Regions from separate parts of the Homo sapiens genome. Here region 2 is linked to region 1. The links come from fine-mapping of genetic effects on gene expression. A gene starts in region 1. The other region holds a variant in brackets. All regions are shown on one strand. Distances are between the middles of the regions. Region 1 holds the start of INSL6 (insulin like 6). Region 2 holds the start of MIR101-2 (microRNA 101-2).

Region 1 (16,424 bases):
ATGTACAGCAAACACTTGCTTCCTTTTTATAGGATTCACAGCATGATTTCAGAGTTATTTACTTTTCCTACATTGTTGGTCAGAGTTTGTTTATTTTATTATAAAATAGGGAAAAATAAAACTGAGTTTAGGAAAATTACTAATGCAAGCCAAGGAAGAGTAGATTGTAGTATAATTTGTGTTTAATTTTCACTTTTTCTGAATAAATTAGTGAAAATGGTCATTAAAAATCTTTGAAAACTGTAGATGAATTTAACAAGAAAAATGGAAAGCACACATAGAAAATCAATGTTAAATGTCTGGCATTGGGGTGGATGTAGATATAGACGTACAGTTATATGTGAATAGAGACTTAAATATGTGAGTCTTTCTATTGGAAAATTTGTGATTATGAAAGAAATTTCCTTAGTGTTATCTAGTCCATAACGCAGTTGGAAGTTATCAATCAAAATAGCGTTAGAGAAAGTCAAAAGTGCCATGGTGCAAGCATCTTGATTGTCACGGAAAGAGTCCACAGACAGGAGAGTGAAGTTAGCAGATCCTTAATAATACTGTAGTACTTCAAGGTGCCCAACTCTAAGTAAGCTAAGTTGTTTAGATGTTAGGATACTTGCTGATTCTCTTTGGTGTTTAATTACATTGAGGCAATGGTTACAATGCGATCCAGGCAAAATTCTGTAATTTTTCTAATCCTCTTTGAAATGAATGTTTTTCCTCACCTTTCACCCCTCCTTTTTGACTTCACAGAGATGATGTCATCCACCACTAATAAAGATGCAGGGACCTTAGATATGACGTTGGGATTCATTCCTAATTTGTCACAGGAGCTGAAGGCAATTCTGTCTGAGGGGTAGCTGTCACTGAGAAAGGTACTACTTTCCTGACAAAAGAGAAGTGAAGCTGATGATGCCAGTAAACTATGCTGTGAAGAATGTTGTGACAAAGGGACTTTTCTGAAAGTATGCACAAAGTAAAGTAATTGTGAACTTCTCACCTAACCTCCTATGTATTCTCCATGAAACATTCAGTGATGTCCAATTCAGTGACCACTGATTGTTAGAATGTGAGAAATCATTATTAATGCTTACATGTTTCACTTGCTCTGTAACACCATAGTCTTTTCACTATTGTACTTCTATGAAATTGATCTTTTTTCTGCTGAAAAAGTCTCTTTCTCTTTTTTATTGAGAGTATATGTAAATCAATTGCTTTTGAATCTCATTGACTATATAATGATTATAAAAGCTTTATTACTTTAACCAACATAATAACTTTTTATACATAACTGACACCAACCACATGTAACAGTTATACATTTATTTAATCAATTTTGTCAACGTATACTACATGAACACAAAACCACAAACACTGCAATATTTTACTTCATTGGAAGTGGGAGGGTTTGGGGCTTAGTGAAATATTATTTGAAAGCAAGCTGAACTGACAATAAATATATTCAGATTTTTGTGCCCAAATGAACTCAACTGTTTCTCTAGTAAGGTTTTTTATGCTTTTAAATAAATATATAATCATAGAGATAACTGAATAAATAACTCATTTTTTGTCTCAGAAAGAACTAGCGAGGAAATGGATTCAAGTCTACCATTTTAGAATTTACAGAACATTTACGTAAGTAAAACAAACCATGAAATAATATGAGCATTTCTTAGAGTTGGTAAAACATCATGGTATCATTTTTAAATTTAGTCAGTTTCTTCAACCTCTGTATCCATACATATTAGCTAGCCTTTACAGAGAAAATGCACTTTAGAAAAAATTTACTTTAGAAAAAGTAAATTGCTTCAATCAAATGTCTGTAAACAGAATTATAGGAGACTAACATAGAAGTTCCTATATTCCAAAGTTCCATACATGGTCAATCATAACCAAGGCTCTAAGGTTTATCATGTCCTCTCTTAGTCCCTCCTGGAGAGCTTCTTCTCATTGAGAGAGCAGAGAACGACAGAATGTAACTGTTTGGGGAGAAAGCCAACATGTTTTAAGAGTTGTGCTTTCATGGTGGAACCTTTGTTGCTCATTGTAACTCTTGCATTCAGACTTACTTATCTGCAGTACACAGCTCACTGTCCATTCCAGAACACATTTTCTCCAAGTTCGTCCTTAACTGATAACACTGAGGGCTGTCACTATTATCTACTATCTACTGAAGTAGTTGCCTCAGTCTGCACCAGTACATACTCCTACTACTAGCCTATCTTTCTCTCCATTTTTCCCTCTAGTTTCCCAGATGTGTCATGACCCCTACCTTTCTTATTCCCAAAGACTGTTTTTGCGCAACAGGTATCAATTTTAAGGCACAGTCTCTCACGTGCAGAAAATATCCACCTTTCTTCTTTACTAAATCAATAGCAATCCCAATTCTGTTACTTAGTAGAGAATTCAACATCAGACATTGTTCTAATGGGGACACCCATGAAGGTGTGCACTGAACCCAGGGTCTTAGCGCCAAAGCACTAAGATCCTTGGGCTGCACTGTCCTCAATGGCTACCGCTGCAACACTCAGTGCAATCCCACATGGTCCTCTCACCTCTGTACTTGTGTCCCTCACTGGGGACAGAAAGAATGCTGACAAGGATCATATCTCTTCCCTTGGATAGGGAAGTTTCAACCTCAGGGTAATTTAAGGAAATAATCATATTATCTCCCTTCTGTTTCTTTTTCTGTGTCTGTCTCTGTATTTCACTCTCTCTCTGGCTCAAGTCCTATCAGGGTTACTTGTATAACTTTTTATATGTCTTTGGGCATTTATAAACAATTGGAAGTGCAGCTTTAGGCATCTCCTTTCTAGCATAGCCCTTCAAAAGTAAGCTAGACGGGCAAAAACCAAGGCCCAGGCAGCCTGCTTGAACTGGGCTGGGGAATGGAAATGTGAGACGGAATAATACAGTATCATGCCAAGCCAGGATAACATCTCAAGAAATTATCCTAACACACACACTGATCACTAACCTTTTCAGCCTTTCCTTCTCCCTGGCATTAGTCCAGATGTGAGGGAAAAATGATAATAGATGAAGTTTCATAATTTTACTAGTATATATAATTTTAAATCTCTTAACCAAGAAATGTTCAAAGCTTTGCTTCCTGGAGGACATTTGGAAGATATAAATTTCCCTTTATTCTTAGTTTTAATATTCTTTATAAATCAGTGTGACAATTGAAGTAAAAGGACAGACTCCTAGAATAGCTCTAAGGCCCTACTGTGAGATTCCCAGGGTGGATGTAACGAAGAACCTAAACTGGTTTAAAACAAAAGAATTTTTTTTTCTCATGGTTCTGAATGCTGCAAGCTAAAATCCAGGTGTTGGCAGTGCCAATGTTGTTCTGAAACCTTTGGGGAGCATCCTCTTTTCTTCTTCCTAACTTCACATGGATTGCTGCTGCTTTTTGGCATTCCTTGGTTGTAGCTGCAGCTCTTCAATGTTGTCCCTCTTGACACATGGTGCTCTCTGTTCCTTTGTCTTCACATTATCTTTGTGTAAGGATATCCATCCTGCTGAATATAGGGCCCAGCTCCAGAGGGACCTCATTCTAACTAACTACATCTACAGCCACGCTAGGGTCTATAAAGGTCCCATTCTGAAATACAGGTATTTATGGTTTCAGTGGATCACTTCGGGGACACAATTCAATGCATAACAGAGCCTGGAGAAATCCAGACAGGACAGTCAGGGTGGTGAAGAATACGCTCATTTACCTCTCTTCCCTCCCTTGATACACAGAAATAAAAATAAACCACTCTTCTGAGAAGACACAGAGGCAAAATTTTCTCCTGGGACTACAAAATGGTACAGCCACCCCAGAAAATATTTTGGTGACTTTTTAAGAAAAACTAAACATGTAACCATGCAACCATCTTACAAACCAGAGATTATATTCTTGAACATTTTCCCAGAAATTTAAAATTAATATTTACATAAATTCTGCACATGAATGTTTATATAGGCTGATTTGTAATCGCCAAACACTGCAACTACACAAAATGTTCTTTATGCATGTTAGTTACACAAACTGTGGTATATCCACACCATTGAATAAGATTCAACAATAAAAACAGCCAACTAGTGACAAGTGCATCAAGCCACATGACTATCCAGAGATCAGGCTGAGTTTTTTCACTAACTCCAGAAAGTTACATGCTTATGATTTCATTTCTAAAACATTCACAAAATGATAAAATTTAAAAATGGAAAATCTTTTTTTTCAAAATTTAAGGAGTGGGTTAGGGCGCAGGTTGGAAGTTGGTATGACTTTAAGGAATCCTTATGGTGGTGGAACAGATTTATATCATGACTGTTCAACTGTCAATATCCTCATTTTGATACATGCTGTAGTTTCATAGCTGTTACCTTTTGGCAAAACTGGAAAGGGTCTAGTAATTATTTATTACATTGGCATGTGTGAATCTGTAATTATCACAAAATTTAAAATTTAATTTGTTAAAAACCAGAAACTTCAGTTTTAGAAGTTGTTAGGGATTCGATGTAAATTGTTTCCTGTTGTCAAGTCAGGAAAAACAGTGAGGAATTCACAGAAAATATGAAGTTGTTAGTAAGAAATTGATCATGAAATTTAAAAAGTGGCAGATATGATCATAAATCAAAATGAGTTTCTCTAAGAACCTCTGACTGGATGAAGTGGAGACTGGAAGATGGTACAGATAGAAGGCTATGAGGAAGGGAATTCAGAAAAGAGCTTCAGAACCTCAGAGACCATCAGCTACCTGGGATAAAGCCAGCAAGAGTGCTGTCTGAAATACTGATTGCAATCCAAAAGGATGAGGACAATGCCCAGTAAAGTTAATGCTAGAACAAGACAAACATGCTGCCCCAGAAGTAAAAGGCAGCTTCCCAGATCGAGCCTGTCCCTGGCCCATGTCCCTCATCCCTTCCTCTGCAAAGTTATAATTCAAGATGATATTTGGGTGGGGACACAGAGCCAAACCATATCAGCACTAATAAGTAGGTACACCTTAAGTAGGTAGAAAAAGAACAAGCCAGAAGAAGGAAGAATAAAAAATGAAGATTACAATGGAGCTAAATAAAACAGAAGATAGGCAAATTCCTTGAACCCAGGAGCAGCCAAGATGGCGGAACAGAAACAGCTTCACTCTGCAGCTCTTACCTAGGAGGATGAAAATGGAGAGTGAATTCTGCATTGTCAATTGAGGTACCAAGATTCTCTCACTGGGACTGGCTAGGTAGTTGGTGCGACCCACGGAGAGTGAGAAAAAGCAAGGTAGAGAGAGGGCCCACCTGGGAGCTGCATGGGGCAAAGGGAACTCCCTCCCCCAGCCATCTGGGGCAGTGATGGATTGTGCTACCCTACCCTGAAAACCACACTTTTGCCATGGATCAATGCAACCTGCAGATCAGGAGGTCCCCTTGTGAGTCCATGCCACGAGGGACTTGGATCACAAGCACAAAGCTGTACAGACTCATGATGGTGGCTGGGGTGGGTGGCCACTAGAGCAGGCACTGAGACACAGGAATATTTGCATACTTCAGCTTTGGAAACTCCCGCGATGCAGGAGATCCACCCACTCCCATGGGAAGGGAGCTGAAGCCAGGGATCCACGAGGTCTTGCTCCCACGGAACCCCACAAGCTAAAACCTACTGGCTTAGAATCCTCTCTGGCCAGCACGGCAGGCTACAGACTGCCTAAAAAGACTGAGTTCGTGGGAGTGAGGGGGTGCTGCCATCACTATGGCTGCAGTCCACAGTTTTCCCATGCCACTGGTGCCAACGAGACTCAGCAGTCTGAATTGGGAGCAATTCCCCAGAGTGCAGCACAGCTGCTGGGTCAGTTTGTAGCCAGACTGCTTCTTTAAGCAGGATCCTGATCCACTCCTCCTCACCAGGCAGGGGCCCCCGCTATGGGAATCTCAGCATCCCCAGCCAGGGGTTCATGGACAGAACTCTGATATCCCTGAGAGGAGCCCCTGGGAGGAGAAGTGGCTGTGGTATTGTGGATCAGCCATCTTAGTCTTTTCTGCCTGCTGGCTCTGAAGAGTAAGGGCAGCCCAGACAAGGGGGATTCCCACCAGTGCAGCACATCCACCCTGCCAAGGGGCAGCTAGATTGCTTATTTAAGTGGGTCCCTAATCCTGGTCATCTTTTGAAAGAACCAACTTTAGTTTTGTTAAACTTTTCTATTGTTTTGCTAGCCTCTATTTTTAAAATTTTTTTGTTGGACTTTCGTTATTTTCTTCTTTCTGCTAAGCTTGGGCTTACTTTGTTCTTCTAGTTCCTTGAAATACAATGTTAAGTTGTTTATTTGAGATCTTTTTTGACATAGGTGCTTATTACTATAAACTTCTCTCTCAGCACTGTGTTTGCTGCATACCATAAATTTTGGTATGTTGTGTTTCCATTTTGGAGTTTTTGAGATGGAGTCTCACTCTGTCACACAGGCTGGAGTGCAGTGATGCCCTCTCAGCTCACTGCAACCTCCGCTTCCCAGGTTCAAGCCATTCTCCTGCCTCAGCCTCCTGAGCAGCAGGGATTACAGGTGCCTGCCACCACACCTGACTAATTTTTCGTATTTTTAGTAGAGACAGGGTTTCACCATGTTGGCCAGGCTGGTCTTGAGCTCTTGGCCTCAAGTGATCCACTCACCTCAGCCTCCCAAAGTGCTGGGATTACAGGCATGAGCCACTGAGCCCAGCCTGTCTCAAGATATTTTTTAAACTCCCTTTATATTTCTTCTTTGACCCACTGGTAGTTAGGAACATGTTCTTTAATTTCCACATATTTGTGAGTTTTCAAAAGTTCCTCCTTTTATTGATTTCTACTTTCATTCCATTGTGGCCAGAAAAGATATTTGATATTATTTTATTCTTCTAAATTTATTAGGACTTGCTTTGTAGCATAACATATGATCTATTCTGGTGAATGTTCTCTGTGCATTTTAGAAGAATGCGTATTCTGTTGCTGTTGGATGGAATGTCCCATAAATATCTGTTAGCTCCACTTGTTCCAAAGTATAGTTCAAGTCTTTTGATGAGTCTCTTGTGGGCAGTATATAGTTGAGTCTTTTTTTTTTTATCCATTCAGCCCTGTTTTTTGATCAAAGAACATAATCCATTTACATTCAAAGTAGTTATTGATGGGTTAGAATTTACTACTGCATTTTGTTAATTGTTTAGTGGTTATTTTGTAGATCCTTTGTTCTTTTCTTTTTCTCTTGTTCTCTTTGTGATTAGATGATATCCTGTAGTGGTATGCTTGATTTCTTCTTTTTTATCTTTTATATATCTACTATAGGTTTTGCCTTGTGGTTACCACAAGGCTTACATTCATCTCAGTATGATTAATATTTTCCGTTCTCAAAAACCTTACCTGATAAAGTTCTGACTAGGACTCATGGCCCACTATAGTTTGGACATAAGTTATTTTTTAAGGAAGGTGATTAAATTTTACTAATCTATATTATATCAACCATTTAAAAAATCCAATTGGCAGTTAATTTAACAGCATTCATGGATGCCACTGGGAAGCAGGGAAAAGATAGGGAAACGGAAAATTAAGAAAAAGACATAGAGTCAGAAGACAGAAAAGAAAGGGAGAAAAAAATAAAATTGTATAGGGAAATGGTGAGATCACTGATAAGCTTGCACCTGTGGCTTCAGCATCCTGAACCTTATTCCTGAGACAGCCACCGAATGCCCTCTTGTGGCCGATAGTACATCCTTCCACGCCAACACACTAGTAACACAGAACTTCATTTAAAATGATAAAGCTACCTATGCCGATTGCGCTTCGCTTCCCTGCCCCTTCCCTCCTAACTGAGCAAAATTATCTCACCTAAATGAGCATTTCATGCTGCATGCTGTTATTCTTACAAGGCAAATCCTCTAGGGGTCCCTGTCACAAGTTAATTTGGTAATACACAATCCTCTACATTATCTAACCGAAAGAACCAGATTTCCATCCCAGGTACCTCAAGACAGCGTCCCTACTTCTTTTTTCTGGAGATTGAGGCTAAGGCCCATGCCTCCCTGTGAACCAGTAGGATTTTTCTGAAGAAGCTTTGAACCTGACTAAACGCACATGGCCATATGCAACACTTAAACGTTTCACCACATATTTGATTGCCAGCTAAATGCCAGATCCCGGGGTACGATGGAAAGCAAGAACAGACGCAGGCCCTTGCCTTCATGAAGCGGGGGTCTCAGGAAAGAGGTTACACGCCCACAAATGGAAACAGGTCGATTAACACCGTGAAAGAGATGACAGGGGGTTTCTGTGAGGGAGACGAAGCTTTATTAACAACCTGGCAAACAAGAACGAGAAACGCATTCCAGGTGGAGGGAGCAACACTTTTTAACCTACGTTATCAGGTAACAGGGATCCTATGTTCTCACGCTTGGTGAGGAATCTCCCATTGAGGAAGGAAAGAAAAATGAATCAAACTAGGGGGTGGCGGGGTAGTGAGGGGATTTTTGGCTTTCATTTTAGGAGCCAGGGCCTGCTACCTTCGACCACCTGAGACCCCTGAGCTGGCGGGAAAGCCTTGACGCAGCCGGCGCGCGCCTTCCCTTGAAGTTCTGGCGACGCCCCCACGCGCTCGGAATTCCGCAGTGTTTGTGCGCGCCGCTCGGCCTGGCGCAGGCGCAGACAGGGAGCAGGGTCCGGCCGACCGCCATTGCACAACGCGGAGGACTAGCCTGGGGTCACAGGGATGCCGCGGCTCCTCCGCTTGTCCCTGCTGTGGCTTGGACTCCTGCTGGTTCGGTTTTCTCGTGAACTGAGCGACATCAGCAGTGCCAGGAAGCTGTGCGGCAGGTACTTGGTGAAAGAAATAGAAAAACTCTGCGGCCATGCCAACTGGAGCCAGTTCCGTTTCGAGGAGGAAACCCCTTTCTCACGGTTGATTGCACAGGCCTCGGAGAAGGTCGAAGCCTACAGCCCATACCAGTTCGAAAGCCCGCAAACCGCTTCCCCGGCCCGGGGAAGAGGCACAAACCCAGGTAAAAATCGAAACCGAAGGCATGTTTGTTCACCTCTGTATATTTCTTATTCCTGCATTTGCTCTGCCAGAAGGTGAGCTTCCCCAGGAAGTGGAATTTGTGCCTAGTACACAGCTCTTTAAAAAATTGTAAAAAACAGTGTATTGAAAATATACAAAACTTCAATGAAGCGCTTTTTTTTTTAACTTGGAGGAAATAAATGTACACTTGTAAGTCTACATATTTATGTAAGAATGTTGTTCTTTTCTGGAGTGCCAGTCATCTGGCAAACTCCTTTTTGTCCTTCAAAGCCCAACTTAAGTATCATTTTCCCTGTGAAGTCATCATTGACCTTTTCATGGCCAATGGCTCCATTGTCCTTTCTACCACAGTATCTAGCACATAGTTGTATTTGACTGTCGTCATTGGCTACAGAATCAGCCCAACCTTGTAGAAGATAAAAATGCAGAGTACCTTGTTCAAAAAAGCAGGAAAGGGCCATGAAAATAAAGGTAGTAAAATATAAAACTGTTTTCCTTACTTGTCCATATCCCCTGGTCACGTACCAGGAGATAGGCCTGGTCCGTTCTCCTATCAGGCTTCATTTAAGAGTTTACGTACTTGTATTTCATTCACTTAAAGTTTCAAAGGTAAATTTATTCAGAACAACAAAGGAACATTTAAACCAAATGCAAGGCCTGTGTGACTACATAGGTTTCAGTCCCATAAAGTCAGCCCTATATACCATACTGTATTATAGGGACTATTTCATGCATATTTTTGTCTGAAATGCTTAGCAGATGGCCTAGCACATCGCATGTGTTTAATATGCGCTGAATTTATACTTGATGCTTTCAAGCAGTCTGCAGGAAGGATATTCTTGTTCCAGATTCATTGGTATATCTTACTATGTTTTTACATTTTGTGACTAAGACATTTTAGTCCCAGTATGATTTGTCATTTTAAAAGAAATTGCACTTTGTTTATAGTGTATCCATAGGAAGAAGATTACTGCCTTTTACAGTAATTCAGTTGATTTGATTTGGACAAATCTTGTAAAAGTGAAGATTTCTGAAATTAAGGAAATGAGTAAACTATCATGCCAAAAAGAGACCCTAATGTAGAGGACTGAAAAAAGTCAAACAATGCACATTGTAGGCACTCATTAGCTTTTTTGGAATGAATGAATAGAATTTATAAAGTCACTGTTGCTGAAAGAATAAAAACTTTTAAAGACAGAAACCATGAGACTGATTCATGATCATTTTCAAACCGACCCATCAAACTAACCCACATACAAACCTCACCTTGTCCTTCTGTTATAATGAAGGAAGTGTCTCTCCCCAGTCTTCTACTTTTACTTTAGTTCAGTGACTCTCACGCTTTAATGTGCATATGAATCATTTGGGAATCCTGTTAATTTACCGACTCTGAGTTAGTAGACCTGGGGTGGGGCCTGATATTTTTCGTTTTTAACTAGCTCCCAGGTGCTGCTAGTTCGTGGCCCACACTTTTGAGTAACAAGGTCCAGTTTACTGTCTGTCTCTCTCTTTTTTTTTTCTTTTAAACTCCTCTTTCTTGTTCTTTTCTCCCAGGAGTGCAAGGAGAGCCTTCCCTTTCTGCTTTATGTTGGGTGGGCATTTCTCTCACATCAAATACTGTGCTTTCACTACCTATGCTATAATACTGTAGTCAAAATTTTATTTTTAGACCTCCAAGCTTGAGGCTGTTATTTAAAGAGAGGTTGGAATGCCTTTTCTCAACAAAGTGCTCTAAAGACAGTTTTCTTAATAAAAATGTTCAACCTTAAAACTCAGCTTGTTAATGATCCTTTTGTTTTAAGTATTATTCACACTCCCCTGGAAGAATAAATGTCATTAATAATGAGCAGGAAGCTGCAATGAAACAAGACTTGTAGAAAATAAAAATGTATCTGAAAATATTTGAAAATTGTTATACCCACAAAACCTGCTACTATGGAAACTATGTAAAAGACAGTTTGCTGAAGTGGAAATACTATGTAACAGTAAAACCACAGTTGTATTGAAATATGTAGAGGAAGGAAAAATGGGTTAGGTTATCAACATGAATTGTATTATAATTTTAAAAATTATTAATCTATAAGGGAAGATGACATTTATTCTGTCCTGTTAATTTCTAGGAAATAATTTAGAAGTTGCAGAGATGTATATGTTTCTAATATAGAATACATAATTATGACATCATTTTTATATATGAATATGGCTGGAAAGTTGATTACTTTTTATTTCACTTTTACCAGCAGGACAAGTTGTTGTGTTAGATCAAGTCAGTTGTCTGAAATTTTAATATCCTGATGATCTACTTGAGTCTGACACAGAAAAATATAATTTGCTACGCTGCTATTAAAAAATGCTTTTTTTCAAAGCTACTTATACATATCTTGAATCTGTAATTGTGTGCTTCTTGTTAATGGACCCTGAAGGTGGAGGCAGTATCTCCAAGACCTACCCCGTAATGTGGCACCATGAAGTTGACATCATATTTCTAAATTACGACTGAGTATTGTGCTTCCGAGATATTAGTGCCAGGTGAAATCATTAATGTTTCAAAATCAGCTTTTCATAATCTGTAACCCCTATTCCAGTTAGATTAATCATATTCCCATATTCTTAGTCTTCATGTCACATATTCTTGTTTTTTTTGTTTCTTTATGTTTCAGATATCATCACAACTAGTCTGTAAAGGGCCCTTCTCTTTATATATTAGTTCAACAAAATTTGAGTACCTATCATGTGTTAGGCACTCTTCTTGGTGATTGGGATGTTAGAGTAAACGGTGAAGGCTCCTACCCTCATGAAGCCTACAGAATAGTAAAGATAGACAATTAACATAAGTAAATTATAATTTACAGAAGGTGATTATCCTCACTTAGCCCCTTTCTCCACTCCCATTCTCCTCCTCTCCTTGGCAATTGTTGTAATGTGTTTATTATATATTTTTTGTTTTTATAAGTTTTTGCAAATTATGCATTCTTTCCTGTTCATATGTTTTAAGATATATCTAAAAGGCATTTAAGATCTATATCTTATTGTTGCTATGTGAACATTTAGTCCATTGCTTCTAACTACTGCATAATACTCATGTGCATTCCTCACATTTTACTGATTTATTCAGTTTTGAACACCTAACCTATGTAGCCTTGAACTCCCTACCACTACAGATAACACTGCCATGAACATCATTGTATGTGTCCCCTTATGAACCTAGAAGTGTTTCTGGGATACACATCTAGAGTGGAATTGCTGTGTCATGAAGTATGTGTATGTTTAATTTGCCTGAGGAGTATCAGATTGCTCTTCAGAGTGACTACACCAATGTATAGTTGCACCACCAATCCTGTGTCCTCATATCTATGTCAACAATTAGCATTATACAGTTATTAACTTTTACCAGTGTAATAGATGTAAAATGACACTATATTTCTATTTTAACTTGCTCTGGGTCTGAACATCTTTTCATATACATGTTAACCTTTTGGATTTTCTCTTAAAATTTCCTGTTTATATATTTTGCCCAATTCTTGTTGGAATTGTTATCATTTTCCAGTTGGTTTATAGGAGTTAATCAAATCTAGATACAGTAACAACTAGTTGTTGGTTTTAGATGTCACAAATATGTTCTCCCATTTTGACATCTGTCTATTGCTGTTGCTTGACAGAAAGCCTTAACTTTTATATAATTAAGCAGTAAGTGTTTTGCCTTATGTATTAGAGGTCCTTTTCTGTCCTTCTGTTAACTTTTCAGTTTTACTTTTCACATTAAGTCCTTAATTATTAGGCTAATTTTTAGTTCTGGTCTCGGTAGGAATATTACCTCACTTTCTCAGTAAGTCTTTTTTTCTCTACATAGGGAGCTAGTTTTCTGAACACTTTCTACTAATCAATTATTTTTCTCACTAATTTGTGGGATAACCATTACTGATAAGTTTGAGCTTTCTATTTTATTTAATTGGTCATTTATTTGGCCTTTTATCGTTACTATTTTTGATACTGTGACTCTATAGGATGTCATTTATCTGGCAGGACAAGTCTTCAATGTTTATTTTTTCCCTTAGGATTGACTAACCTAAATCTTCAACCTTTATTCTTTCATATATATTTAAAAGTATGCTTATTGAATTTCTTTTTTAAAAGTCCACATGGAATTTTATTTGGGATGCGTGGAATATTATCAGGGGAACCCGCCCCCAATATTTCAATGTAGGTTCTATTTTCCATAAGTGTCCGCTGGCTGAGAAATAAAGAGTACAAAGAAAGGAATTTTACAGCTGGGCCGCCGGGGGTGACAGCACATATCAGTAGGACTCTAATGCTGGCCTGAGCCTCAAACCATCAAGTTTTTTGTTAAGAGTTTCAAAAGGGGAGGGGGTGTAAGAACAGGGAGTAGATCACATGCTTCAAAGTGCAAAGAGCAGAACTACTAATAAGGGTCTAACAAAGATGACATGCTTCTGAGGGAACAGGACAAATGGCAAAAGCAGAACTACTGATAAGGGTCCAATAAAGATCACAAGGGAAAGGGCAAAAGCAGAACTACTGATAAAGGTTTATGTTCAGTGGTGCATGTATTGTCTTGATAAACATCTTAAATAACAGAAAACAGGGTTTGAGAGCAGAGAACCAGTCTGACCACAAATTTACCAGGGTGGAGTTTTTCCCCACCCTAGTAAGCCTGAGGGTACTGCAGGAGACCAGGGCGTATATCAGTCCTTATGTCAACGACATAAGACAGACATTCCCGAAGCGGCTGTTTATAGACCTCCCTCCAGTAGTACATTCCTTTCCCAGGGTATTAATACTAATATTCCTTGCTAGGAAAAAGAATTTAGTGATATCTTCCCTACTTGCACATCCGTTTATAGCCTCTCTGCAAGAAGAAAAATATGGCTCTTTTTGCCCAACCCCGCAGGCAGTCAGACCTTACAGTTGTCTTCCCTTGTTCCCTAAAAATTGCTGTTATTCTGTTCTTTTTCAAGGTGCACTGATTTCATATTGTTCAAACACACGTTTTACAATCAATTTGTACAGTTAACACAATTATCACAGTGGTCCTGAGGTGACATACATCCTCAGCTTACGAAGATAACAGGATTAAGAGAGTAAAGACAGGCATAAGAAATTATAAAAGTATTATTTGGGAACTGATAAATGTCCATATTAAAATGAAATCTTCACAATTTATGTTCCTCTGCCATGGCTCCAGCCGGTCCCTCCGTTCAGGGTCCCTGACTTCCCACAACAGAATATATACACTAATTTGAAGAGGATTGACTTCTTTTTTTTGCTTCACCTTCTAAGTTCAGGAGTACATGTGCAGGATGTGCAGGTTTGTTACATAGATAAATGTGTGTCATGGTGGTTTGCTGCACAGATCATCCTATCACCTATGTATTAATCCCAGCATCCATTAGCTATTCCTCCTGATACTTTCCCTTCCCCCAGGGCCCCTGTCAGGCAGGCCCCAGTGTGTGTTTTCCCCTGCATGTGTCCATGTGTTCTCATCGTTCAGTTCACACTTACAAGTGAGAACATGTGGTGTTTGGTTTCTGTTCCTGCATTAGTTTGCTGAGAATGATGGTTTCCAACTCCATCCATGTCCCTGCAAAGGACATGATCTCATTCTTTTTTATAGCTGCATAGTATTCCATGGTGTATGTGTAGCAAGTTTTCTATATCCAGTTTATCATTGGTGGGCATTTAGGTTGATTCCATGTCTTTGCTATTGTGAATAGTGCTGCAATGAACATATGCTTGCATGTATCTTTATAACAGAATGATTTACATTCCTTTGGGTATACACCCAGTAATGGATTGCTGGGTCAAATGGTATTTCTGCCTCTAGGTCTTTGAGAAATCACCACACTGTCTTCCACAATGGTTGAACCCTACCAACAGTGTAAAAGTGTTCCTTTTTCTCCACAACCTTGCCAGCATCTGTTGTTTTTTAGCTTTAATAATAGCCATTCTGACTGGCATGAGATGGTATCTCATTGTAATCTTGATTTGCATTTCTCTAATGATCAGTGATGTTGAGCTATTTTTTGTTTGTTGGCCACATATATGTCTTCTTTTGAGAACTCTCTGTTCATGTCTTTTGCCCACTTTTTAATGGGGTTGTTTTTTTCTTGTAAATTTGTTTAAGTTACTTATAGATGCTGGATATTAGAGCTTTGTCAGATGGATAGATTGCAGAAATTTTCTCCCATTCTGTAGGTTGTCTGTTCACTCTCATGATTTTTTTTTTTTTTTGCTGTGCAGAAGCCCTTTAGTTTAATTAAATCCCGTTTGTCAGTTTTTGATTTTGTTGCAATTGCTTTTGGTGTTTTTGTTTTGAAATATTTGCCTGTGCCTGTGTCTTGAATGCTATTGCCTAGATTTTCTTCTAAGGTTTTTATGGTTTTGGGTTTTACATAAGTCTTTAATCCATCTTGAGTTAATTTTTGTGTAGAGTGTAAGGAAGGGGTCCAGTTTCAATTTTGAGCCTACAGCTAGCCAATTCTTCCAGCACCATTTAATAAATAGAGAATTCTTCCCTCATTGCTTGTTTTTGTCAGGTTTGTCCAAGATCGTATGGTTGTAGGTGTGTGGTGTGTGGTTTTATTTGAGTTCTCTATTCTGTTCCATTGGTCTATGTATCTGTTCTTGTACCAGTACCAAGCTGTTGTGGTTACTGTAGCCTTGTAGTATAGTTTGAAGTTGGGTAGTGTGATGTAGGAAACCACAGAGATGGTGGCTGCCCCTCCCCACAGGAACTTTGTTCCAGAGTGAGATCAGAGCTCTGTCTGTATAACTCTGGCTGGAGTGGCTGAAGCCTCCACATGGAGGTCCTGCCCAGTGAAGAGTAATGGATCAGTGTCCTGCTTAAAGAAGCAGTCTGGCCACAATCTGCCAAAGCAGCTGTACTGCCTTCTGGGGAACCCTTTCTCATGCCAACCAGCAAGCTGGAACAGCTGAGTAAAGGGAACCGTGGAGATGGCGGCAGCCCCTCCTCCCTAGGAGCTCAGTCCTAGGGAGAGATCACAGCTCTGTCCCTGTAACCCTGGCTGGAGTGGCTGAAGCCCCTACAAGGAGGTCTCACCCAGGGAGGAGGAATGGATTGGGGTCCCACTTAAAGCAGCAGTCTGAGCGTGGTGGCTCATGCCTGGAATCCTGGCACTTTGGGAGGCCAAGGCGGGTGGATCACTTGACATCAGGAGTTCAAGACCAGCTTGGGCAACATGGCAAACCCTGTCTCTACTAAAAATACAAAAATTAGCTAGGCATGGTGGCATGTGCCTGTAATCCCAGCTACTTGGGAGGCTGAGGCGGGAGAATCGCTTGAACCTGGGAGGTGGAGGTTACAGTGAGCCAAGATCACGCCACTGTACTCCAGCCTGGGTGACAGAGCGAGACTCCAACTCAAAAAAGAAAAAG
Region 2 (16,424 bases), 340 kb after region 1:
CTTCTAATGGTCTCGCCTGGCAGACCTAGCGTCACCCCAGCTAGCCTGACCATAAGACTCACCTGAACAGTTCATTAAATACACAGGTTCCTGAAGGTTATGGTGAACTTGCAACTGGTAGGAAATGTCCATATGGAAGAGCCCAGAATCACAGTCCACACACAAAGCTGATCCCTCCCTACCCTCCACCAGGCCCTGTACTCCCCAGTTCATAGAGGCCAGAAATCTATGTTGTTAACAAGAATCCCTGGCAAGTCTCATTGGGCAAGGTTAGGGAATACTGGCTTAGTGAAGAATGATGGCTTGCACATCTATAGTGAAGTATTACAAAAACCTCGCACTGTACTGTCTCCCAATCAAACCAGCCAAACTCTCCACTCTGGCCAGATGGTTCTCAATCTCGACTGCACATGGAATAACCTAAGGAGCTTTAAAAACACTGACGCTAAACACATAGATCAATGGAAGAGAATTGAGAGTCAAGAAATAAACCACACAGTTATGGCTAATTTCCTCAATGAGGAAAGCATAATCATTGCAACAAATGATGCTGGAACAACTGGATATCCACAGGTGAAAGAATGAAGCTGGGCCCCTTCCTCACATCACACACAAAACTTAACCCAAAAGAGATCAAAGTCATAGCTGTAAGAGCTAAAACTATAAAGTTCACTAAAGAAAATACAGGAGTAAATATTCATTACCTTGGGCTAGGCAACGGTTTCTTAACCATTTCTTAAATACAACACCAAAAGGATGGCAATAAGAGACAAAATAAATAAATTGGACTTCATCAAAATTAAAATACTTTGTGCATCAAAGTGCACCATCAAGAAAGTAAAAAAACAACCTACAGGATTGGAGAAAAGATCTGCAAGTCATATATCTGATAAAGGTCAGGCATCTCAACTATATAAACAACTCTTACAACTCAATAATAAAAAGACAAATAACCTAATTAAACGATGGGAGAGTACAGGCATGGTACCTCACACCTGTAATCCCAACAGTTTGGGAGGCCAAGGCAGGCAAATTGCTTGGGGCCTGGAATTCAAGACCAGTCTATTACGACCCCCATCTCTACAAAAAAATTGTTTTAAAATTAGCCAGGCATGATGGCAGGAGCCTGTAGTCCTAGCTACTCGAGCTATGATTGCACCACTGCACTCCCACCTGGGCAACAGAGTAAGACTCACTGAAAAAAAAAAAAAAAAAAAGTGGGAGAGCTAAACGGATATTTCCTCACAAATATCCAATAAGGACATGAAAAGATGCTCAACATCACTGGTTATTAGGGAAGTGAAAATCAAAACCACTGTGAAATATCACTTCATATCCAATAGGATGGCTATAATAAAAAGACATACAATAACAAAAGTGTGGGTGAGGAGGCAGAACCACTAGAACCCTCATACACTGCTGGTGGGAATGTAAAACGGTACAGCCGCTGTGGAAAACAACCTGGCAGTTCCTCAAAATGTTAACCGGGGAGTTACCATAGGATACGGTAATTCTACTCTTAGGAATATGTACAAGAGAAATGAAAACATACACCCACACAAAAACTTGCACGCAAATATTCATAATGGCATTATTCACAAGAGTCAAAACGTAGAAGCAACCCAAATGTCTACCAACTGATGAATGCATAAAATGTGGTATATCCATTCAATGGAAGATTTTTTTTTTTCTGCCATAAAAAAGGAACAAAGCACTGATACGTGCTACATCAATGAACCCTGAAAACATTATGCTAAGTGAAAGAATCCAGTCACAAAGGACCAGATAGTGTATGATTCTATCTACACAATATGAAAAAGCCACAACAGGCAAATCTATCACAGAGGCAGAAAGGAGATTCGTGGTTGCCTGGGGCTGGGGAGAGTGGGAAGAATGGGAGGCACTGTGAGCTGGCACAGGGTTTCTTTCTGGGGGTAGTAAAAATGTGCTAAAATTAGATTGTGGCTGTGGTTACACAAGTCTGTGAATACACTAAAAAACCTTTAAACTGTGTACTTAAAATGGGTAAATTGTGTCATATGTGAATTGGTTCTCAATAAAGCTTTTTAAAATAAAGAAATCAATACATATTTGCCATGCTATAAAACAACTGATCCTGGTTCTCACCCCTACTCGGTGTATACCAAACTACATATAAAGCCTGCCTTGATGAATTTCCCTCCCATCCCCATCCCTCTGTGCTAAGAGCACTGATCTAGTTAAAGGAAGGAAACAGCTACATGGAGAAAAGGGGGCCTGAACAATTCCTGACCCTGTGGCTGAAGTGACCAGCGCATCAGGGGCTAAGAGATGAAACATTAACAACCCTAGAGGGCAGGAGTTCTGGTCAGTGCTGGATGCTCATAGAAAAATCCCCCAATTCCTTGCTTTCCTTCCACCTAGGAATGTGCAACTTCATCTCGACCTTTAAAATAACATCCCATTTGTCAACTTTTCTATGAAGTCTTTCCTAGCCCATAAACCCTACCCCAAACGATCTTTCCCACCCCTCCAGGTTTCCATAGCATTCTCTGCTCATGGTGTCTAATTAAATGCTTATGTATCACTGTCCCCTTCCCCATCATTAAATTATTTAAGTACCTCAACAGCAATGCTTTTCTCCAACACTGAACCCGTTATTCAAACAAGGTACTGTATAAGGTTCTCAGTAAAGAGGCACTGAATAGAATTTAGCCTCAGTAAAGAGGCTCTTCTCCATCACTGAACCCGTTATTCAAACAAGGCACTGTAAAGGTTCTCAGTAAAGAGGCACTGGATAGAATTTAGGAGTTGGGGTAATTTTGAGAAACAATTTTCAACATTCTTGGCAATTAAGGGAAGTCAGCTTTCCCTGCTGGCTTTCCTGTCTTACTAACCAATTAAATTTCTGTTGTCGTTGTTGCTTTCTATCCATCCCACCATCTCCCCCATCCTGTCCTAGGGAAAAAAGAAAACACAGCAAACCACAGATAAACAGTCCACATCTGTGGGCAAAGCTTCCAGCTGGCGGCAACCTGGAAAAAGCCAGCCATCTCACCCACTCTGCATCTGAAGGAGAAAACAGATTGGTCTCTCCTTTGCTGCTGCCTCAAACTAACACAGGCCTGGGGCATGCTCTGCTCCCAGGATGTCACCCAGCCTACTTCACTCTGAATCACTCAACTGTGCTTGAAAAACCAGACACCCTCCCCAGCTGGCAGAATTTCTACGGGCCCTCAGCTTGCTTCTGATCTCTTGGAGAAGGATGGGAGGAACACAGGCTCAAGTGTGCAGGCCTGTGTATTTGCAAGTTTGGGGTATTTGTAGCCTTTGGAACAGTTAGAAAAAGCAAAGTTAGTTCCACTTTTTACATAATGTTCTGCCAACTCCTCAGCCTGTCCAAGGAAGACTGTGTAAGAGACTAGATTAAGGTACATTTCAGAATCTTTCCCCCACCTCTAGCCCCATTCTCCCTATGTCTCTGGCAGCTGGGATATTGAAGAGCAAAAATGCTCACAACCTGAAAAAAAACCACAGACAATATTAAATCCCAGCAAACAGCCTCCTTAAGAAAACGAAAAGCAAATGAAGAGTAAGCTCGTCCTGTATCTACATGCACTTGAACAAAGTCTTGTCCAGTGCTGATCCACGTCCTGCTCCACAGCCCAACAGCTCTCCACAGCAGCAGCTGCACTGAGGCACCGCCTCTTGAGTTCATATTTCCCTGCCCCTCTCTTCCACAGCACTACACTGGAGATTCACACTTCCTAGACACAACCACACAGCCACACACCCAGGGCAAAGAGACCCACCGCTCACCGAGAGCAGCTCTGCCCCTCAATGAGTAACCACCCACACAGCGCAAATAGCAGCTTTTCAGAAGAACCATTCTAGGCAGTAGGGGCTCTATGCAACTCCTGTGTAAAGGATTTTAACACCTAACATAGAGAATGATTATCTGCAGTGAGGCTTTTTTTTTCCCCGGGACAAAATGATTTTCAGAAAACAAAAAGCAACTGACTTTTCTACGAAAGCCTCTAGTCCATCTGACAAGCAGGTTTCAGAGAATTCTGGAGCACAGAGATAACTTTTCCTATTTTTTTTTTTTTTTTTTTTTGAGACGGAGTCTTGCTCTGTCACCCAGGCTGGGGTGCAATGGTGCGATCTCAGCTAACTGCAACCTCTGCCTCCCAGGTTCAAGTGATTCTCCTGCCTCAGCCTCCCGAGTAGCTGGGATTAGAGACATGTGCCACCACGCCCGGCTAATTTTGTATTTTTAGTAGAGACGGGGTTTCACATGTTGGCCAGGCTGGTCTTGAACTCCTGACCTCGTGATCTACCCGCCTCGGCCTCCCAAAGTGCTGGGATTACAGGTGTGAGCCACCGCACCCGGCCTTCCTATGTATTTTCAAAAGGTGAGTTGTTCCCACTGCCACTGCTGGTCAACAGGAAAGGCCATGAGGCTTGTGGTCATGGGTCCGTTGAATCCCAACTGACCAGGATTTGACAGGCTGCCAGATCCCACCCTTAAACACAGCCCCTCCCACCAGACCCCTCTTTTGAAGCATGTGAGAGATTGGGGTGAAGGCAATCATGGGGTGAGCCCTCTCTCTGGCAGCCCCCACAGGCACAAACCACAACAGAGGGTCCTGCGTCCTCCTCCACTAAGCCACCTGGTTACTATGCCACTGGATATGGGACAGAGCTGGGGGTACCTACATCTCAGGTGTAAGGACATGCTCTGGAAGTTGAGGGAAAAGATCTGGAGATAAGAAAAGGATCTGCTCAATGGAGTCCCTATAGTCATTACATGGCAGCTTTTAAATATACTGCTGATGCTTTTTCTGCTGAATAGAGGCTTTTCCAAAGACAAGCTGACCTCTGCTCCAAATGAAATTACTACATTCAGTTACTGAGGCAGCAGGAAACAGAGAACTAGGCTAGCTGCACTGTCAGGAGATGGGGTCCCAGGCCCAGTTCAGACAGGATCTCACCATAAGCAGGTCAGTGACCTCTTTTTTATCTGAGAAGGAAGGCTATCACTTGCTTTTACCATACACCAATTATGTTCTAGGGCTCAAACATCAGGTGACAGGGCTTTACAGAATTTAAACGCTTCACAAAACTAAGACATAGTGGTACTGTGCAAGCTCATGGAATGCAGTGAGGCCACTGACCCCAAGTAGAGGCAGGCTTGGCCGGCAGTTCCCAGTTTCCCCACTGGTTTCCTCATTGGTTCTTCAGAGGGCTGAGCTTTAGGCTGAGTGGGCTAGGAAGCCCCACTCAGTTGGTGTTTAACAAGGACAGTGTCCTCTAGCTCCTCAGCACTTCCACAGTCATGGAAAAAGGTCATTAACTAAAGTTAGAAAAAAAAAAGTCACGGTTTATTTTAGATTTCCAACTAAAGATAGAAAGAGATCATTTTACAGCAGAATTTGAAACGAGGACTTTGCTGAAAAGATGTAGCATGGCATCCTGCCTCAGGCAAGGTGCTTGGAGTCCAGCGATATGGATGGAATCCCAGCTCTTACATAAGAGCACAATGGGTTGGCCGGGCACGGTGGCTCACGTCTGTAATCCCAGCACTTTGGGAGGCCGAAGCATGTGGATCACCAGGTCAGGAGATCGAGATCATCCTGGCTAACACGATGAAACCCCGTCTCTACTAAAAATACAAAAAATTAGCCGGGCATGGTGGCGGGCGCCTGTAGTCCCAGCTACTCAGGAGGCTGAGGCAGGAGAATGGCACGAACCTGGGAGGTAGAGCTTGCAGTGAGCTGAGATCGCGCCACTGCACTCAGCCTGGGCGACAGAGGAGACTCCGTCTCAAAAAAAAAAAAAAAAAGAGCACAGTGGGTAAGGGAAGCAGTGACTGGAGGAGACTGTCCAGGTCTGAACCCCACTTACTGTCTGTGTGACCCTGGGCACGTAACTTGACCTCGCTGTGCCTCAATCCCATCACCTGTAAGACGGTGCACATGATAGTACTTGCCTTTTTTGCCCTTATGAAGTTATGATGAAAACCAGATAAGTTATTATGTCTGAGTGCTTAAAACAACATCTTGCACACAGTAAACACGGTGTTGTTTAAATAAACATCTACCTTACAGAATTCTTAGGATCAATAAGATGTGTGTAGTTTGCTCAGTAATGTGACTAGGGGAAGTCAGTCATAAAAATAATAACTAGAAATTAAAATTTTTTAATCCATAATTTAAAATTAATGGATATAGATTTATAGGTAGCTGGGCAGACCACTTACAGATGACTTAAACCCTAAAATCACCCAAAGCAAGTTTACTAGGCCTCCTGGGGTTCAAAGTGACCTGACCGGGCTACTCTAGCCACACTGCCTCTGGGGTAGTCCTGCTCCTCAAGGAGCAGTTAAAAAAAAAAAAAAGTGACCTGACCAAGGGACTGGACTGCAGCAGGGTGAAGGGGTGTCCAGGCAGGAACCACAGCACCCAGCACTGACAGCTCCTCAGGCACGTTGCCAGGAGCACTAAGCATCTGACTTAATCTAAGCTTCGTTCCATCTCCACAAGTCCAGGACTTCAGGACCACGCACCTTATCTACAAATGACACCAAGGCTCCAAGATGCTAAATACCATTTCCACGGTCTCCTGGTAGCGCGTGGTAGAGCCTTAAGTCCAGATAGGCTGGACTCCAAGACTTGTGCACTGGCAGAATGCAGAGAGCTCTGGTAACTGCAGTCTCATTCCACAAATAATTTCTGAAAGTGCTAATTAAGATGCATCTTAATTTTTGCTATTTTTCTTGCTGTTAATCCAAAAGTATAAATCCTCCCTCCCTAAACTGTAAAATTAAGCTTGTTGAATGGAGGGTGCAACTACTGTCACTAACTGTAAGCCACCTAAAACTCAACAAATTTAACAGAAATAGAATCTTCATATACCAGTGATTATCCAACAGTATTTTATTCTACTGAAAAAAAATCTCTTGGGCCTTTCTAAAAGAGTTTCACATTGGCCGGACTTGGTGGCTCAGGCCTGCAATCCCAGCACTTTGGGAGGCCAAGGCGGGTGGACCACGAGGTCAGGAGATCGAGACCATCCTGGCTAACATGGTGAAACCCCGTCTCTACTAAAAATACAAAAAATTAGCCAGGCACGGTGGCGGGTGCCTGTAGTCCCAGCTACTCGGGAGGCTGAGGTAGGAGAATGGCGTTGAACCCGGGAGGCGGAGCTTGCAGTGGGCGGAGATTGCGCCTCTGCCCTCTAGCCTGGGCGACAGAGCGAAACTCTGTCTCAAAAAAAAAAAAAGAGTTTCACACATACAGACTTACTTTCTCAAGTAGCACAGAAAACCACCAACAGCAATCCCAATGCTCTTTACATAGACATTTAAAAAGCTGTTTTATACACACGAAAAACAGGTCCAAACTGCTTGAAGAAATGCTTTTTTTTTTTTAAACCAAGGAAGGTCTTGCTTCTGGTTTTCTTTAGAAATCTGAGGTTTCACAAAACAGGTTTCTATGACTTTAACTACACATAAAAATAAATGTGTTAGTTTGGTCTCCAAAGCTCTTGAATCCATTAGAATAAACTATTCCCCCACCATGATGGTCCTCACCGTGGATTTCATCCCTTTTTTATCCTCAACTGTACTCACAAATACAATGTTAACTTTGCCTGCTGCATCCTGCCTTTGCCCTTCATCTCTTTGTGCTGCTGGAGCTGTCCATAGTGATTAGGGGCAGAAAGAGTATGAAACAGATCCAGCTTTCTTGAAAATAGACTCCCTTACCTGTCTTTATGCTAGCTTACCAAAAAGAACGGAGGCTTCCCTTTCCCACCCTGGCAGACCCGTCTGCACAAAGCTCTGGGAGGCAGCAGAATATCTCTAAGCCCCAGCCTCAAGATACATCATCTTACAATTTGTGCTACTCCTTTAAAGCTCCATTCAGAGCAGGACACTGTTTTCACAGGAGAGGAAGTCATTTTATGCAAGTTTTCTGGAAGAAAAGACACTACAATTAATGTTTGGTGAGAAGATGTGTTGAAGAGGACACAGGAACTTTCAAAAATGTCCAGTCATATCTTGAGCATCTCTGCAAAGCTTGAAAACATCATACAGGTCCTGGAGCCAAATTGAAAAATCTCCAAAAGCAAAAGAAAAAAAGTGTCACGAAAAAAAACA[T/G]ATATGTATTCCATTTTCACAGAATGTTCTGCCAAACCCCATGCCCCAGGACCACACACATTCAAGACAACACCCCATACCTCATACCGTGTGTGCAAGCAGGACTTCCCCAGGCCTGAAGCAAGGGCTGGGAAACGGCAGCTACGAGCCCAGCTACAAAGCCGGTGGGGCCACAGTGGCCACACAGCTGGCAGCCGCCTCCAGTGAGCTCTCTACAGGAAGCGAGTCTCTGTACCTAGGGTGCCATTCTTCCAGCCCTCATCTCCTCTCCAAGTACTTAACTACCAAGTCTATTTTAGCATTGTTTACTACTGATGTTACCACGCCATTTAGGATTACTCAATTTTAGGTATCCTGTCCTACGAAATACTTTTACACAAGCTATCAGGAGATAATGTGGTCCTTACCAGTTTCCTGCTTATCAGTCTTCCCTCTCTGCTAACAGAATGTATTCTCTTCCATTTTCCTGTTCTAAAAAAACCTCCCACCACGAATTCCAAAAAAAAAAAAAAAAAGAAAAAAAAAAGCCTCCATAAGAATTTATTTCAAGCTCCTGGTTTTCATGCCCCCAACGCCATGGCCCAAGGGTGCATAGCCCCACCGCAGTCCTCAACCCTTTCTCAATGTGATGGCACCACCATTCTTCAGTTATCACAGTACTGTACCTTTCAGATATACAGCATCGGTACCATGATAACCGAAAAAGGACAGTTCAGTCTCATATCTACCTGAATATTCCCTGCCACCCAGCTCACCAACCTCAGATGGGCCATATGATGATCTCCAAGTATGCAAGCACGTGAAAACACACACACACAATGTCAGTACTCAAATAGGCTGTTTTCCGCAACCTCATTTACTATCAATAGGAAATGCTTCTTTCACAGTGTCATTTATAATTCAAGTCTTCTGACACTGTTCTTTTTGAAGAGTGCTTGCTTTTACACCACAGCAGTCAACTTCTGCTAACATTCAACAATCCAAACTCACTTCTACAATTCCCTACTAGTCCAGTAGCATTAATACAAACTCTGTCTTTTGTCATCTTTCCCAGTGAGCTCATATCCTATCATCTTAGACAAAAAGCCTGTTTTCCCACAGCAAGTTAGACAGCTAAGGAAAAGAATGATTAAAAAAAAACTAGTAATAAAATCCAAGCTACACCAAACCAGGAGTTTACCTCTAACCTGGAAACAAAATCTAAAGCACGAACAAAATAACTGCCCAATAGAGATCATGCAATTTCAGTTACCTGGGATTAAGGAAGGAAAGAAATGCAAAAATCCTTGTATGTAAAAATAAACACCAGGTTAAGAGTGACAACTGCTGGCTGATTTGAGGATAAACACAAGCAGGTGTTCATAGTGCAGGCTCTGTGCAGCACAACACCCTTTGTCATTTTGGGCAATGAGAAAATTACACTGGACAGAATAACGAGGTTGAAAAAGAATAACTTACGTGTAGGGAGAGAGAGGGCCTAGCAGGACTTTGGAAACATCCTGCTGTCCAAGGGTCATGAGTAGTAGCGCCAGGCTTTGGTTGGTCGAGTCTACGCATCCACCCTGTAAACACAAATTAATAATTGTACAAACCAGAAAATGGAAAGCCAACAAAAGAGAGGAGGAAAAAAAAAACCAGAAACATACACTCATAATATCAAAATCCAAAGTTCAAGCAACAATAAAACAGAATACAGGTCTTATAAGAGTAATCATTGTATCAACTAACTGTAGAGGGTTAAACTAACAGTTAATTAGAGCAACTGTAATAGTTGAGACTATCAGAATGAGACTATCAGATTCAAATCTTCTTAAGTGAATCTAGTAAAAAAAAAAAAAAATGAAACTTTCCCTTTATCATTAAAGCAGCAGCAGGAGGACATCATCTTTATTGAGTATATGCAAAAAAAAAAAAATCTTAATCAGTTCTAGAAGATGTAGAGTTAATTCCAAGGGTTAAGTGGATGACGCTCATATTTATTGAATCTGTCACAGAACAACACAGTCTATCTGACATGAAACGGCCTTTTCATGGCCTTACTTTTACACTTATTCAAATACATTCAGGAAACTGCTTGCCATACTCTATTAACTTCTCTCCTTTATCTCTTCCTGAGTTCCTTAAAACTGAAGACTTGTTAAGGTTAGATCCCTTTATTCTTACTACTTATGTATAAAATTATGCCTTCCACCCCCTTTTCCTTCCCTTTCTTCCAAATTAACAAGCAGAACAGACTTCTCTTCAAACACTTTCTCCTGAGGTACAACTGCTTAGGTTGCCTTTCTTCTTTTGTTTTTCATTTTCTCAGCCATTTTAACTGTTTTGCCTCCACTAGACGCATACATAAGCATACAAACACGCTTTCTGATCATTCTTTCTGGAATAACTTTAAAACATATTGTACATAGTCAAAGAAGGATGACCTTGAATTTCTACATATTTTGCACAGGTCAAAATTAGAAATCCAGTCTGACCAAGGCACGTTACTATCCAAGGCTAGACTGAACAGGATAGGTGGCCAGCAGTGTGGTTCATATGGCTACAACTGCCCCTGCCTCCTTTTTAAGGCATGTAGGGTAGGAAATAAATCCATTTTCAGATACAGACACTCTGAAATTCTCTGGCTGTCAGATATCATTTAGTAGCCCTAATAATGGTGAAGGAAATAAGGATTGATCTTACTGCTAGCCTTTATGAAAATCTATTGCACGTCCCTAAACTACCTTAGTTAATAAAGGACAGAAAACAACATTTAGATCACATAGCAAATTCTAGGACAAGGAGAGTTCCTTTTCCTTTTCTACCCAAAAAGAAAAACCTGACCCATGGAAAATATGACGACCAACAAAACTGTTTTATAGATCTTGCTCCCTTTCATAAGACAGCCTAAAATTAAAGTGTTCTCTTCAGTCTCTGCTTCCTATCACTGTTGTTATTTCACCATTCACTGGACCAGTATTTTAATGTAATAGATAGCTAAGGTCCCTGTACAGGACATCATGGAGGAAGTGGTAGGGGCTATCACCCTACCTATGCTGGGGGGAGGTGTCACCTGCCAGATACCTGAGGAGGGCTTTAGGACTCAGGACTACTTGAGCCAGCCCTTGAGAGATGAGCAGGGTTTGGGGAGGAAGGAAGAACAGAATGATGGGGAAAAATAAAATGCCAGGGCCAGCAAGGAATGGCCAGGTGACCAGCCTGGAAGGCACCACTGCTGCCTGTGGAGAAGCACATACAGCACAGAGAAGGTGGGTAGCCCAATTAAGGCAAGCCTTTCCGAAATGGGTCGAGAATTCTGACTTTGTCCCAGGAAAGTGAGAAGCCAGTGAAGGTCTCTGTGCACATGAGTGAAGAGATCAGATCAGTATTTTAGCCTGAAAAGGATGTTAGGATTTGGAAAGAACTTCTCTGCTAGAAATGCAGAGAGCCAGTGGCCATAATCCAGTTGTGGAGTGGAGCAGGGAGGCAGGCAGTGATTAGAGCAGTGAAAAGGATGGAAAGAAAAGGCAGTTCCAGAAAGCCTGGGACAGAATCAAGAAGGCTTGGTAACCGATGAGGCATAAATGGAACAGGGGGGATTAGATCAGAGGCTTAAAACTTGATAAATAGCACCTTCAAAAGGGATGGATTTTTTACCACTCATTCAATCCATGTCACATCACAACTCTACAGAAAATTATTCAGAAAAACATGAAGTATTTCCATCCTTTTAATAATTAAAGATCATAGACATAAAAAGGAAGTTTTCTGAATAACTAAAAGAAAACGAAAGAAATTTGGTCCAGGCACAATGGAAGACTGAAAGTAGATCTCAACTAAAGAAAAAAAATTGCCAGGCACAGTGGCTCACGTCTGTAATCCCAGCACTTTGGGAGGCCGAGGCGGGTGGAACACCTGAGGTCAGGAGTTCGAGACCAGCCTGACCAACATGGAGAAACCCTATCTCTACTAAAAATACAAAATTAGCCAGGCGTGGTGGCACATGCCTCCAGCTACATGGGAGGCTAAGGCAGGAAGATCACTTGAACCCAGAAGGCAGAGGTTGCAGTGAGCCAAGATCACGTCACTGCACTCCAGCCTGGGAAAGAGTGAGACTCTTCCTCAAAAAAAAAAAGAAAAATATTAAAGAACCTAATTTAAACTGCATGTTTTTCCTCTTGTGGAGTGGTAGGTGCTTTTACCCTGAGGCTTATAGCCTGCTATTTATAGGGATATAAACCCCACACTCTAGCTGTGCCCATAGGCTCCTACTGGACTACTGTATAATGTGATGCTTCTAATTCTCCCAAGGTCTATTAGAAAGACATGGAAGTGTCCCCATAGTTAGAGAGAAGGCCACTACAGGACCAGCCACGGCCAGACACTACAGGACCAGGAAAAGAAATCCTGCACAACAAGAGACCCAGGGAAACACATTGCATGCACTGTTTCCCGCCCCCCTACAAATAAGTAGACCACAAACTTCGTGAATTAAGTAACTGGCAGGGCAACCTCTTGATCATCTACCCCAAACTTTTAGTTACTACCCATTTTTCACAAAATTATTAAATTTAGCATAAAAAAGTAAACTGATTTAGCACCAAAACATCTGAGGCCAGATCGTGACTGCACAAGACTTGTCAAAGAATACCTCCTCCTTCAGGAAGATTTCATCTCCTTCTTCTACTATTTCCCAGGTGAATGCCGAGTAGAGGGGCTGGAGCTACTCTCCTGAAAATAAAACTATAGGTCCACTGTCTTCCATTTTTAATTAGATGGTCATTAAATAGAGCCATTTAGGACCTGGAAATTTAATTAATTCTGAAACAGCTCATTCTCATGTGTTCCATCTTGGACCAATGAGACATTTTCAAGAACACTGACTTGGATCAAGGGAGTAGACTATAAATATAAGCTGTTTTCCACTGTGAGGCTGGTCTGAGGATCAATACCTATGGCTAGTCAGGCTTTACCCTACCACCCTGATTAATAAACTGAACCAGTGGCAAAAGGAAGAATTAAAAGAAAAACTAAATTGCCACTTTACCTGTTTTACTGATTTTATTTAACTTGGCTCAGATGTGATTTTTGCTACCATAAACGAGAAAACTTACTTGGAGACCAGAAAGATGCCTGACAACTGAGAAGAAATACACAGAACAATACAAAGAAAGAAGTCTCTTCAGCTCCTTAGGGGAAGAAGAGAGATGATTTACAAACATTATACACCATACAACAGCAAATCAACTAGAGTATAGTTCTTGCTGATGCTCAGTTCAAGAATCTGGGACCTAACACACAGAGCAGAGAAACGACCATCCTTCAGAGCCTTTCCTGGACTCTGCATGTCAGAGAAAAGGTTTCACCTTCTTGATGTGGGACCAAGGCAAAAGACGGTGCAGACTAACAGAAATCTTGGACCCAGATTTGTGACCCTCTTCTAACCAAGTATAGGGGATCTCAGGGAATATATCTTTTAGGAAACTGTATCTTATTCTTTCTGCCATCATCTTTCCAAATTTCTCCCTTACTTTAGGTCACCTCACCTATTTTGAGGAAACAGTAAAAGTGTGTGCATGCATATGTGCCCGTTGCAATGAAAGGATCAACAGAGAAAGACTGTGGCAACTGAGAGGGCAAATTGGTCTCAGCTGTGTCCCACCAGCAGACCTGCAGAAGCAAAATGACAACTGGTTGAGTCTGTCTTCAACATCAGTTTACCCCTTCTCTGTTCCATGTTCTTAGGTTTTCCAAAGCTTCTGCTATGCTGTGCCACAGGCCTGCCTTCCCTAGTTATTCTGTGCTTTTTTAAATTTTTTTCTTCTTTTCTAATACTTATCTGTTAACTGAGATTCTGTGCTCTAGAATGCATTGCAAAATCTAGCCTGTTGCTATTGTTTTATATATGAATCAACTGTCACATACAAATCCAGATTTCTAGCTTCTCTTAAAAGATCTAAAAAGAATGAGTCCATCTTCCCACATGGCAGCAATCGGGGGGTGCCGGGATGGTACTCTCTTTGGCTAGGGCAGTGTGTCAGCCACCACCTTACCTTACCTGCTTCCTTTTTTTAACCTTCCCTTTCCTTTATGACTGTTCCAGTTCTTTCCTTGGCTCACTGTTAAAACTTACCTGCCCTGTGTCTCAACCCAGTGGGGCTAGATCTCTACTCACTGACTGGTTGAGCTAATCAATTAAACTAGTTAAGGCTGAACTGCTTAATGCACAGGAACAGATTATCTCCTTGGCTTGAGCCCTTGGAAGAGGACGAAAGCTGCCAAGAGATGAGAATGAGAAAACAAACTGCTTCCTGGTCACTCCTCTATCAGAGGAAGCTGTGGACATACCCTGTAGATTTCCTCCAGCAGCAGCCGGGCACAGTTCCTGCCAAGGTCCTCTGGAAGTACTGCTGCTCCCTGGCCCTGGGGGTTGGAGGCCAGTTCAGCACTGAGGAAGGTGCCACTGGTGGTCTCAGCAACCAGTGACAACCCAAAGCCCGGAGACCTGGAGATACAAAGGCACAAACACTGAGTAGGTTTAACCAAGTGAGGTTTCCACTCACCAGCAAACGGAAAGAGAAGACAAACATTTTTTTTGACGGCACTGTGTTCAAAGGCTTCTTTCTGGCTGCATTAACCTCATAGAGTTGCTACTAGTTTACTAGCTGACCAGAAAAGAAAATCAGTCCAAAAACAAGCATCTCTCCACAAAATTTTAAGATTTGACAGCTCAATTCTACTTTCCCAATGACTGTTAAGTAGACACATCAACAGGAAAGGTGTGGCGGCCTTCCCAGCAGTACAATCCGTATGCAACCACAACACAGACCTGCCCCCTTTAACACAACTCAACACACGCTCACACAATACTTTCTATGTGTCTGGCAGGAGACTAGCCAAAATACTTGTTTCACTAAAACTATGTATAAAATTAATGTTTCGAATGCACTATATGAGCTCACTATATAGAAGAACTATGTTAGTCAGTCCTTAGATTCTTAAGGAAAAAAAAAATTTGCTTGTCTATGCAGTCGAAGGTTAACAACACCTGCCAAGGAAAGGGGGTGCAGTGAGTTACCCATTTCATCAAAGGTTCTGGGAGGCACTCTGAGTTATGCTTAACAATCTAACACTGTGCTATCCACCTATCATCATGGGACACCTAGAGAATTTTAGCATAATCCCAAATTGCCTTTGAGTCACCTGACCAGCAGAAGTGAGAGGGTGTCCAGCAGTGGCTGCAGGCAGTGGCATACAAAAGTGAAGATTAGAAGATGAAGGGGAGAGAAAGCAAGACAAGGTGCCACTGCTGCTTTACCCATTTACCTGCATTTCCCAAGAATTTCCATCTGTGTGAGTTTTCTAAGGTGTATTTGTCATTACGATAAACTTTATATTTAATCAGAATTATTCCATTTAACACAATTTAAGTAACTTTAGAAAAGACAAAGAATATATATTAGGTTCTATGTAAATTACTCTAATTTTTCTTCCCAACTTGTGGGAAATATGTGTTATCAGGCCTATTTCAAGTTAGGCTGACCAAGCTGCTGGTCATCAGGTGACCTCATTAGAGATATGCACTGGTATAGTTTGCAAAGGCCAGCCTCCACAGCTTTCCTTGGTAAAGGACCCAATTAAGAAAAAAAAAAATTACTGTGAGAGTTAAAATGGGACCACACTGGACTGATGTGCATTCTGGCCAAAGCGCTGACATAGGCCACCAAGAAGTGCTGTCCCCTAAGGTTCTAGGCCATGGCCACAACATAAACTCTTACATCTGAACAAGCCTGACTTACTGGATACTTCACTGAATCAGAAGAGAGAAATACCCATCCATGACTTTATAATTTTAATAACAGAGAAGGAAGAGCACTATTAGTCATCTGTAACTGGAGATTTAAAAAAACCAAACACAAATTTAAATCCCACATTGGTTTTACATGTAATTTTTAAAATGGGGCTTGGAGTTGATGGCCCACAGTCTACATCATGTCCATGTCTTTATCTACGTGTAAGGCTTCTACTCACCATTAGTAAGTATGGACTTGACCACACTCTAGGGTCAGCTGAGTCAGTGGTATAACAAAAAGCCACACTATAAGCTGGTGGCAGGATGGCTGTCAGGCCTGCTCTGCTTCATGCCAGGACACTTTCTGATAAAGCGAGAGGCAAAGCAGAGAAGGGACTATCGAGATGAAGCCATTTAGACAGCTTCTGCTGCTATCTGTCCTCCCCCATCCCTCGGAAATCCCCTTTCTCCAGAAAATAGCTGACACATAATTCCAGACCTGTGGCCAACAAG

What was found.
Region 2: its variant is fine-mapped to the expression of INSL6 in tibial nerve (GTEx, PIP 0.96).

Annotation. Positions count from the first base shown.
Region 1 is chr9:5,177,881-5,194,304 of GRCh38, reverse strand. It overlaps INSL6 (insulin like 6), which reads left to right and starts at 8,666. Exons shown (of 2, transcript NM_007179.3): 1 at 8,666-8,991. The coding sequence starts at 8,703.
Region 2 is chr9:4,842,725-4,859,148 of GRCh38, reverse strand. RCL1 (RNA terminal phosphate cyclase like 1) reads right to left here. Exons shown (of 9, transcript NM_005772.5): 7 at 14,468-14,624; 8 at 9,599-9,702. MIR101-2 (microRNA 101-2) reads right to left here and starts at 8,852; the gene lies at 8,774-8,852. It overlaps LOC124902113 (a long non-coding RNA gene), which reads right to left and starts at 8,782. Exons shown (of 2, transcript XR_007061402.1): 1 at 5,887-8,782; 2 at 2,074-5,335. The variant T/G (reference allele first, on the strand shown) is at 8,141.